Homo sapiens: one gene and its partners. The protein of the gene in region 3 interacts with the protein of the main gene of each other region in a pairwise test. Each region holds a gene or a part of one and is shown on either strand. Other genes may lie near its edges.

What was found.
Region 1: the proteins of GLRX (region 3) and MMP23B interact in a two-hybrid assay, tested with the Homo sapiens proteins (one large-scale study listed by BioGRID and IntAct).
Region 2: the proteins of GLRX (region 3) and AQP5 interact in a two-hybrid assay, tested with the Homo sapiens proteins (one large-scale study listed by BioGRID and IntAct).

What each region holds. Positions count from the first base shown.
Region 1 is NC_000001.11:1,630,579-1,634,323, reverse strand, and holds the start of MMP23B (matrix metalloproteinase-23 precursor), read right to left. Parts: upstream 2,152-3,745; 5' UTR 2,106-2,151; coding exon 1,950-2,105; intron 1,542-1,949; coding exon 1,411-1,541; intron 1,344-1,410; coding exon 1,204-1,343; intron 1,137-1,203; coding exon 969-1,136; intron 577-968; coding exon 412-576; intron 336-411; coding exon 225-335; intron 123-224; coding exon 1-122. UniProt on the Homo sapiens protein: Protease. May regulate the surface expression of some potassium channels by retaining them in the endoplasmic reticulum.
Region 2 is NC_000012.12:49,960,300-49,964,044, reverse strand, and holds the start of AQP5 (aquaporin-5), read right to left. Parts: upstream 2,174-3,745; 5' UTR 2,028-2,173; coding exon 1,665-2,027; intron 1,379-1,664; exon of another isoform or gene 1,121-1,378; intron 554-1,120; coding exon 389-553; intron 1-388. UniProt on the Homo sapiens protein: Aquaporins form homotetrameric transmembrane channels, with each monomer independently mediating water transport across the plasma membrane along its osmotic gradient. Plays an important role in fluid secretion in salivary glands.
Region 3 is NC_000005.10:95,813,232-95,816,565, forward strand, and holds the end of GLRX (glutaredoxin-1), read right to left. Parts: coding exon 3,282-3,334; 3' UTR 3,276-3,281; exon of another isoform or gene 3,265-3,275; intron 1,727-3,264; exon of another isoform or gene 1,159-1,726; 3' UTR 618-1,158; downstream 1-617. UniProt on the Homo sapiens protein: Has a glutathione-disulfide oxidoreductase activity in the presence of NADPH and glutathione reductase. Reduces low molecular weight disulfides and proteins.

The DNA of each region.
Region 1 (3,745 bases), on a different chromosome or scaffold from region 3:
TTTCCCTTTCTTGTGGAGGATCTTCTGGCCGCAGCGGAAGGTCACGTTCCTGCCCTCGGGCACCAGCCTGGTTTTGGTCCTGGGGGGCGGTGGGGTGGTGGCCACCGTGGGGAAGGGGAATTCTGCTCCGGGTGGGGGAAAGAGCCCCGTCAGTGCCCCCTCAGCCCCGACCATGGCCAAGGCCCAGCTCCCACGCAGCCCTGTCCCGGCCCCGTGGGCATCACCGTAGCAGAAGTCGCAGCTGCTGGGGCAGAGCCTCTTCATGAGCCGCCGGCGAGCGTCGCAGAAGCCCCTCCGCGCCCAGGACGCGCACACGAACAGCCTGTCGAGGCATCCTATCGGGAGCGTGGGGAGCACGGCCTGGCTCAGGACCGCCCGGTCCCCGCCCTCCCGCCCGACAAAGGGACTCACCGTAGAGCCGGTGCAGCCCCCACAGCTCGTCCTGGGACAACGCCTTCCAGCCGCGCAGCGTGGCGTTCAGGTGCATGAGCGCCCGGCCGTGTTGTGAGTGCATCAGGCCCAGCGCGTGGCCGATCTCGTGGGCCGCCACGTGCACCAGGTCCGTGAGCCACACGCCTGCGGGCCCCGGGGGTCAGCGCCTGGGAGCCCCGGGCCCAGCCCCGCCGCCCGTGGGCCAGCTCCCCGAGGCCCGGTGTATCTGCTGGAGCGCAGCCGCGGAGCCGCCCTCGGCCGCAGCCACGGAAAGATAAGAATGTTCTGGGCCCAGGCGGTGAGCTCGGCCCCCAGGAATGCAGCTCCAGCTCCCGCTCCAGAGGCGCAGGGGGATGGGAAAGGGAGTTCAGGGCTGCCGGGATGGGGGCTCCCACGGGCTCCCCTCCTTGCCTGCTAGACTCCAGTGGCAGCCACCACCCCGGAAGGTCCCTCCTGCCGTCTGCCCCAAAGCCCGACCGCGGCAGCCCACTGTGCTGCAGAGGAGAGGCCTCCAGGAGGCCAGCCTGGACGGTCACCTTTCTTCCAGCTGTAGCGCGTGGGGCCCAGGACCCAGTACTCGCTGTCGTCGAAGTGGATGCCGCCGTGCGGGGGGAAGAAGGCGTGGGCCAGCTCCCCCGTGGGGCCGTCGAAGCAGTGGTGCAGCGCGGAGACCAGGCAGTCCGTGTGGTTGATCGGGTAGAAGCCTGGGGGGAGCACGGGGCTGAGAGGCCGGGCGCGCAGGGCCGGGCCGGGGCGGGGGCGGGCGCCCACCTATCCGGAGGTCGCTGGGCTGCTCGGGGGCCACCTCGCGGAAGCTGAAGGGGGACACGTCGCTCCACATGCGGAAGGCGGCAGCTAGGGCCCGCCGCGTCTCCCGCGGGCTCAGCAGGTTCCGCGGGAAGGAGAGGATCCTGCAGGGAGAGTGAGCTCAGCGGGCGCCGGCCGCGCCCCCTCCCCCGGGGCCCAGCCAGGGCGCACCTGTAGGTGAGGTTGAAGTGGTCCCAGCGCAGCCTGGCTGGAGTCAGCGTGTAGCGGCGTCTGCGGGGGGCCAGTGGGCCCGGGACCCGGGTGGGGGGGACCGCCGAGAGGCCCAGCGCAGCGACGTCTCCCTTCAGGGAAGAAAGCGTGCGTGGGAGGCATCGGTGACGGTCCCCAGGACCAAAAACTGCCGCGGAAAATGGACTGGAAGGAAACGGGGGTGGGGGTGCCCAGGGCTGGGAGCGGGCGTGGCGGGTCCTGTCTGCCTGTGGTTTCGGGTCTCCTAACCTGAGCGCCCTGTTGCACGTCCCTGGGAACGCGGCCCAGTGGAGGGGAAGGGGCTGAACAGCAGGGCGAGGCCTCCCACCCCTCCCAACAACTGGACACAGGGGCGTCCAACCCTCCGACCTCGGGACGCACATCCGGACCCTCAAACACCCCGCACACCCCGCACACGTCCTGCGGGCCCCCCGATAGACCAGACCCACAGACGTGAGGACCCCCCCAACCCGGCACCTGGCCTCCCCCCCGCCGCTCACCTGCGCTGCGCTCCAGGCCGGCACCGCCGGGGCCCCCAGCCGGGCCAGCAGCACCAGCGCGGGGAGGAGGCACAGGGCGACCAGCGCGGCTCCAAGCCAGCGGCGCTCGACGCCTGCCCCCGGGGCCTCCGAGGGGACACGGGCCCCGCGGCCCATGGCAGACTTGCTGTGGGGCTCAGGGCTGCATGGGGCAGCAAGGCGCGGGGGCCCGGGCCGCAGAGCCTCCGGGGAGGATCCGGAGGGGAGGCAGTGGCTCGGCGGCTCGGGTTACAGCCCGGTGTGGTGGGGGGGAGGGAGACGGGGCGGGAGAGGGGGCAAGGCTGCCCCTGAAGGGAACCAGCTGGCCCGTCCGTTGGCCGAGCTGCCTGCTGTCTCCAGCCGGGGGCATGGGGACCCGCGTCCCGTGGGCCAGGGGCAGAGGCCTGGGCATGGCCTGCTGGGCGGGGTCCTCGGAGGGGGGAGCGAAGAGGGCCCCAGGCAGCCCGGGAAGGGCAGCGCCAGGGCTCCCGCTTAGGAAAGGGTAGCAGTGGGGGTCCCCAAGCCCCCACTGCTGGGCAGTGAGTGATCTGGTGGCTTTTTTCCCAAATGGAATCCTCAAAAAACCCCTGAGCCCCACATGAGCGGAGTCTCCATCCTGGCCCAGGCAGCTGAGCTGGGCCGCAGGAGACGCGTCGCTCGCCTGACAGTGTCCCCGAGAGCTGGGAGGGGATGGCCGGATGGGGACGTGGCAGTGAGTATGGGGCGGTGGAGGGGGAGGCGGGGAGGGGGTGCGTGGGTAGGCAAGGGCCGCGGAGGGTGCCAGGTTGCGGGGCGGAGGGAGGGAACTTGCCAGGGTCTCCCGGGGAGCCGGGAAGGGGCGGGCCCTGGCTGCGGGAAGCCCCGTGGAGGGTAGCGCGTGAGGTGGAGGGTGTGTGGCTCCTAAATCCCCGGCTAGGCCCCAGCAAAGGGGAGAGGGAGACGGGAGGGACGGGAAACGGAGCTAAGCGCCGGGCCTGGAGGTCTGGACCGGTCCTGATTGGGGGCGGGGGCGGGGAGCTCGGAGACCCAAAGGTTCGACGGGGCGGCCGGCGTCCAGGCGCGAGCGGCTCTGGGCTGGGACCGAGACCGGGCACCGGCGTCCCGCGGGGCGGGGGTGGGGGATTGGGCAGAGGAGCAGGAGATTCCGAGCCAGACCGGCCTGTGTCTGTCTCGTCCCTCCCCGTTTTCCGCGCCGGCGTCGGGCCCAGGGTGACGGCAGCCCGGCCAACGGGGTCAGCGCCAAGCAGCTGGCGGCGGCCGCGGGCGGTTCTTGGAAAGCGCGAGAGGCTGGGCCTGGCCGCCGTATTTGCTCCGACACCGCCCCCCGCCCCCCCAGCTCGTCACCCCGCCTGCGTGCGCCCGGCCCCCAGACCCTGCCTGGGACGCCCCCCAACTAACTCCCTGCTGGGACGGGACCCCACAGCCCTGGGGAGTGTCGGGCCCCTTGGATCAGAGCGCGAGTCCCCGCGGCCGCCCCCAGGACGGAAGAGCGAGGGGGGCCCGGGGGCAGACACAGGAGTCCCCGCCCCGTCGGACCCGGGCCTGGGGGGCGGGAGGCGGCCGTGCCCGCGCCTGGAGGGTGTCCTGGCCCGAAGGCCGCAGTCCGGGCGGGAGTCTGGACCCGAGAGCCTGGGGCGGGCGGGGCGGACCCAGGGAAGGGCCCCCCCCCCCTCGCCCCCAGGCTCGCCCGCGTGTCCCGAGGGGAGGACCCCAGAGGCGCCCGGTCCCCCAGGCAGACAGCAGAGGCAACGTCCGAGAATCTTTCTTTTTATAAAACA
Region 2 (3,745 bases), on a different chromosome or scaffold from region 3:
TCCCACAGAATCTGGACTCTCTCAAGGTTACACTGCAGTCCAGGGGCTCAGCCAGGTCTCAAACTCAGGCTGGCAACCTCTCCCTCCAAGGATCCCAGCTGCTTGGTTAACCATGGACCCTTAACTACGCCCTCCTCTCTTCTCTGCTCTGAGGTTGGGTTTGATTCCTGTCCCATCCCACCTCCTACTTACTCCCATCTTTCCTCAGCCCAGAGGTTTTGGGGGGATCAATTCTGGGGCCCAGTAGGGCCAGAGTCCAGGAGCCCTAAATCCAGGCCTTAAACTCTGCTGGACTCATCCATCTGAAGTGGGCTCCGCTCCAGGGCTCCATTATTTGCCTTGAGTGCCTGCCCCACCCTCACCCCAGCCCAATGTCGGTACTGCTCACTCCGACAAGGTGGCCCAGGGTGACAGACAGGCCAATGGACAGGGCTGGGGAGCCCACAGGGCTGGTGCGGCGGGAGTCAGTGGAGGCGAAGATGCAGAGTGCCAGCTGGAAGGTCAGAATCAGCTCCACCACCATGGCCTGGCCCTGCGTTGTGTTGTTGTTGAGCTGCAAGGGGATAGCGGGTTAGGACCCCGGCCACCTTCTGGCTGTATAGCCAGGGGCTCGGGGAGTAGGGCTTTTGGCCTCCAGGGACACTTAGAGCACCTTGGCACCTGGAAGCCAAGTCCTGTGGACATCGCCCCAGCGAAGCCATTTGTTAAAGACACTGTACATTTCATAGTTTGCACAGGCTTGAAGCTCAGGCCTGTGGCCAAAGGGCAGAGCGTCAGGGTAGCTTTTCCTGGACACGGGCCTATCAATGGCTCTGCCCAACCCCCAGCCCCCATAAGCTGGCATTTACCCTCCATCCTGTGGGCAGCTGCCCGGTTTGCCTGCCTCACACCCCATCCCGGCCTCCTGCCCGTGCCTGGCCCCATGCCAGTGCCAGCCTTAAACCCGTCTCTCCAGTGCGGCTGACTCACAGCTTGACAATGGCCAAGCAAATCCTCCTCTGTGTTTGATTAATGAACCCAGTTTGCATGGGGTTGGGGGCTGACTCTGGGGCTGCAGGAGGTGGGAGGGAGGCAGGGGTGCGGGGTTGAGGGGAGGAGCACAGGTTGGGGAAAGAGGGAACCAATACTCAACAGAAACTGCTCTGCACTGGCCCCACATTAGGGGGTTCCTATCTACGGTTTCTAAATGTGAGCCCCTTGACACCTGCTGTGGCAGACACAACCATCCCCATGGAGGCGCTGAGAACAATGAAGCACAGACAGGCCAGGGTCACCCAAAGCCGTGATGACAGCCCGCTTTTCTCTGGTGGTTCTACTCAACCGCTCCACTGAGGTGATGGGAGAGGTGAGGGGCCCAGGAGGAAGGTGGAGCTCAAAGGTGAGACAGGAGGAGGCAGAAGTTTCTGGCAGGAGAGGAGGGGTAGCAGGCATTGGAGAGAGACCAGGGTGGGCCAGCATGAGGGGAGGGGGAGAGGAGGTGGGCAGGAAGGGAGCACATATCAGCCTGGAGAGTTGCCTTCCTGGCCTTGGGAGGCTCTTGCCTTCCTGGTGAAGGGTGTGGGCTGGCCCACTCTGCGGCACCCCTTTTTTCCAGGTGGGGTAAGAGGCCTGGTCCTGAGCCCACCCCAGGGTCGAGGCTCCCACCCCCCCCCCAGGGCACTCACCGCGTTGACGGCCAGATTGCCCCGGGCATTGAGCGGTGCCACACCGTAGAGGATGCCAGCCCCGGCAATGGCGCCCACCAGCTGGGCCGCCACGTAGAAGAAAGCCCGGAGCAGCGAGATCTGGTTGCCCACCAAGAGGGCCAGGGTGATGGCGGGGTTGATGTGGCCGCCGCTCACGGGTCCCAGGGCCTGGGCCAGCGTGCCTATGGCCAGGCCAAACGCCAGCGCGATCTGCAGGATGGTAGGCAGCGCCGACGGCCACTTGAGGGCCGAGCCCAGGCCAAAGAAGACGAAGATGAGGGTGGCCAAGAACTCTGCGAACACGGCCTTGAGGAAGGCCACGGAGCACACCTCCTTCTTCATGGTGGCCGCGGGGGCCCGGCGGCAGCTGCCGCGGCGGGGGGCGCCCGTTGGGTCGCAGGCGGCGGAGGAGGTGGATGCGGCGGGGGCGGGGGCCTGGCTGCGGGGCGCCGCGCACTGTCCCGCGCCCACTCCGAGGCTGGCGGCCTGGCGCGGGCCCTGCTGGGGCGCGCTATATAGGGGGCGGGCGGCCGGGCGCGGGGCCGGCGCGGGGGGGCAGGGGGCGGCTCCTACGCTCGGGGGCCAGCGCGGCGCGCGGGTTGGGAGGCTCCAGGCCGCTGCGGGCCCGCCGCTCTCCGTCGTCCAGCGCAACCCCGGCGCGACCCCCGCCCCCCGGCCGGGGCAGCCGCCGGCCCGTCCGGGCCACGTGACCCAGGCGGCGGTGTAGACCGGCCCAGCGTCCCGGGCCCTGCGCATGATGCGCCCAGGTTGGCTCCCGCGCTCTCCTCGGTGCCGTGCGCCCCGGACTCCCTGGGAGACGGGGCTCGGTCCCGGCGCTTCACTCCGACCTCGGGGCGTCTAGCTCCGCCGGCCTTTACCGCGCTCCGTGCGCGGCCTTCCCCTTTTCTTCTCTTCGGGCTTTTGGTCCAGCTCCTCCTTTTCCTCCTGCGACCGGAGCATCCTGACCCGCCTCACCCCCGGCTGGGTCGGAGTGATGCTCGTCCCGCAGGTCGGCGCCGCTCACCTCCCTCACCGCCGGCGGCGGGGGCGGGCGGCCGGGCTGGGTCCTGCAGGGCGGTCCGGCCGTCCGACGTGGGCCGCTCCCGGCCTGGGCCGGGCGAGCTTCTGGGCTTGGAAGGCTGGCGTTTTGGGAAAAGTGGGCACCGTGCCAGCCTGCCCCGACGCTTCGCAATCCTCGACGCCCGGTAGCTGGGCAGTACCTGGACTAGGCAACGGATCCCCGGAGGCGCCCTCTCCCAGGCCGGGGTTCCCCTTGTCGACGGGACGGGACGGGGGTGTGACGTGAGGCCTTGAGACTCTGGGAGTTGGAGTGGGGGAGCAGGGGGGGTAGAGACGCACCACTGACCTCCCAAGCGCGGTCTTGGCGTCTTCCCTCTTCCTGCTAGAAGCCCCTCACCCTGGATCTAAGACTCTCCTTCTCTTCCTCCACCTCCCCTAAGTCTCCTTCAAACCCTCACTTGGTCTTGATCTCTCTCCCCTCGAAATCTGTTTCTGTCAGTCAGTCTTTGCAAAACCCTATTTCTCTTTTTGTCTCTGTCTTTGGTCTCTGACCCTCTCCCTCTGCCAGCCTCTTCCTCTCGGTCTCTCTCCGAGAGGTCTCTTTCTCATTTCAGTCTCTCTGTTCTCCACCTCTCCATCTCTCTCTCTCTCACACCTTCTCATTTTCTGTTTTTCCTTCCTGCCTTTTGCTGTCTTAGTCTCTCTGTCTCTCTCTATTCATTTCTCTCATCCTGCAGTTTCTGTCTCCTGGCTATTTTCACCTTTCCTCTGCCTCTTAATTTTTGTGCCTTTCTTTGTTTCTGTCTGTTTCTACCTCATTTTCCATGTCTCTCTCTCTTACATGTGGTCTTTCTCAGTCTCCCCAAAGTCAAGTTCTTCTACCCCTGGTCTGGGTGACACTTTCTTCCAGTTCCCATCCCCCTTCCCTCTGAGCTTGTAACCCCTTTGTGACCTGCTGCCTCCTCGCACACCACCCTCTCCCTCTTCCCACCCACTCCAGGTCGGGCATGTGGAGAACGAGGCTGGAGGGCTCTCTAGGG
Region 3 (3,334 bases):
CCGCGCCCAGTCACCTTTGGGTACTTCTGAATTTGGCAGGAGACCAATACAGATGATTAACTACAACATAGCCTGATAAGAGCTGTAGAGTATCTACATGCACAGTGTTTTTGAATTCCAGAAGAGGGAACGATGATTTTTCAGTCAAAAGGCCATGAGAGGAGAGAGAAAATATAGGGGAAATGATCTGTAAATCAGGCCTTGAACGAGGAGGAGTTTCAAAGTAAAACAAAGAAGAAAAGGCATCTCAGGAGAAAGAAACACAATGAACATGGACAAAGAAGTGTGAAAGTGCAGGCAAGTGGTCCAGAGTGGATCAGATACTATAACCTCCGGTGGGAGGGCTTTCATATTGTGCAGTGTGTAAACTGAACAATTATCCATAGCAATCCTGGTGTAAACTGAACAATTATCATAGCAATCCTGGTTGAAGGGAGTGGTTAGGGCCCACAAAAGAAAGAAGCGAGAAGTACAAGGGCCTTAAGTGGGAAATGGCAAAAAGGAATATGAAATGAAAAAGACTGTTATTAAACCCTAAGCATTATTCAGTAAGCCAGGGCTGGCATTTATTTCAATATGAAATTTCAAAATTATATCAGCCATTTGTACTCAGTGAGTGACAGCAGCACGTGTCTTTATTTATAATGGCAGGGCCAAATATAAACACAGTTTTAAGTTAGTGTATTTCGCATAACATTCCTTAATGTCTTGAGAACATGCAAATGAATTGGACAAAAATCACTGAATCATCTATAGGTTTTTTTTATTAGAAAAGAAATTAAGTGTTGTCACTAGAGATTGAAGGAAATTAACAATCTTACAATTCTAGAACAGGCAAACTTCATGATAAGGGATTCTTAAGTTTTCAAAGTGTAGGAGCTCTTTCACAGATACACTCTTGGTGTAGGGGGCTGTAAGTTTTATCAGATGTTTTACATTTCATGCTTTAATCTTTGCTGGTAGTCTAAATAAAATAAATACACAGTGTTCAGGATTATCTGGATAGCCATCTTAAATAACAGAGTGTTCCGCATGACCACAGCCTCTGCACTTGTGCCTCTGATCCATATGACACCAAGACCAACTATGCTTTTCATATGATTTCTCCAATTGGGTCCTGTGACCTTTCACAGAATTGTTGAACATTTCCTATGAGATCTGTGGAGGACAAGGTGGAGAACACTGGTTCAGAGCAGTGATTTTCAAGGTGGGATGGGATGGGGTGGAGTTGAGTGGAGAGATGCATGTAGTTAGAAAGAACACATTCAAAATACCCACTGATTTCATAATACAAACTCCATAAAGTCAAGCAGCAAAATGATTTTAGCTAATGGGCAGTAGCAGATAACCAACTGTGGATTCATCATTGTGGAGAAGGAGTCTGGATAAACATAGTTGAAAAACACTGGCTTAGAGGTAGAGACATGCCGACACATGGAGAACAGTAAGAAACGCATGCCAAAGAGGACAATTGAGGGTCAGTGAGCGAATCCTGGGCCAGAACTTGTCACAGTCTTCTGAAAACCAAAGAGCACATCCAGAAGAAAACCAAGATGGCCCGTCAACCTTCTTGGCCCTGTGATTAAGAGCAAGTTGGTCCACTTTTAAATACTGAGCCAAAAGAGGAAAAAAGCTGTTTGTGCCCCCAAATTCATCCACCAGAAGTGCTGTCATCATTTGCAATGCCATCCAGCTCTTGAGGAGGGACGTCAGCATGGGGCCTGTTCTGCCAGGAAAGAAAGAAGGGATCTCCTTGTAAGGCAAAATCCTTCCTTTCTCTCATTACCAGAACACTTACACCTGCCATTTAAACACACTCTGTTGCAGATGGCCTTGAGATGCAGCTGCCAGTAAAATACTGACAGCATAGAACACTGAAGGAAAAGGCCAAATGCAAATAAGGAGACTTTCTGAATATGGGGGACTCTAATGCCCACACCAAAATAGAAGCAGTTGGAGAAATAACATTTCCCATCTTCTCTCATTCTTAATCTAAGCCTAAATTGCTAAACATGTCCCAGAATAGGAAACCATTAATTGGGTTTGAGTGCTTTTAGTACCAGTGGTAAGGCCAGGAAGTGAACTCAGACAGACATAGGGTGCACCTGCTGTGATGATATCGTAGAATTCTGATTAGAAGATTTATAGCATTGACTATTTCATTTCAGAGAAATCAGTGGTATTTTTTCAGACCTTTTTCCCCCTTCTGTTGCTATGCTGAGTAACCATCACAAATAATGTATACTCATTGCCCAAGAAATGAGTTATTAATTAGCAGGCAATAGATACCCCTCCAAGAACATTTTGGTTAAAGAACCATTCATTTCTCCCTCAACTAAAGCAGCATTTACATCTCTCTGGGTACAGGTCTCTGAATTGGCCTGCTTGGGAGCTAGCTAGCGCTAGCTGTGCTGGGGAACTGGGGGAGGGAGGAGCTCAGACTCCAAAACCATCACGGTTCCCTTCTGAAATGTTCATCGCCCTGTGGTTTTCCACAGAGCCAAAGATCTCCTTTAGGTTACTGATTTTAGAAAACTTTGTTTTGGCTTTTGGGAAGCCAATTAAATAGAGTTGATTTGCCAAGTGAACACAGGTAAAGCCAAAATGACCTGTGTTTCACATTGCGTTTTGAATAAATCCAAATTGTTTACCATGGCCTGGGTGCTCTGGCCCCTGCCCACCTTTCTCGCTATTCTTCCTTTTCACTGCACTTCATTCACTCTATTCCTGCTTTCTTTCTGTTCCACGAACATCCCTTACCTGTTGCCACCTCAGAGCCTTTGCACTTGCTATTCCCTCTGCCTGAAAAGCTCTTCTGCTTCATCTCTGCATAGCAGTCCCCTTGTTAACCAGGTCTCAGCTCAACCCTTCCTGAGAAAGGCCCTCCCTTACCATGTTAGCTCAATTTTCTCCCCACCCCATGACATATTCTGTCACATTATTCTATTCTATTTCAGGATTTGCTTGTTTTTGATCTGTCTACCTCTCTAAAATATAAGTTCCAGGTTATCATTTTATGCATCATTATATTCTCATGTGTCTGGCACATGCTTAATAAATATTTCTTAAATGAAGCTTGAGTGAAAGGATTTCTCTCATTGACACGATCTCTTTGTAAAGTGTGAAATTCATAAGTGATTGACATCACCATTCCTCAACTCACCCCAAATCATTTCTTCCCCCAACCAGAATGCTGTCATACAGTATAACAAACCACGACAGAAGAATTCCACGGTCTCCCATGTTCCTGGCCCAGCACCTCACCTGCCACTCACCTGTGGTTACTGCAGAGCTCCAATCTGCTTTAGCCGCGTCAGCAGTTCCCCACTCTGTT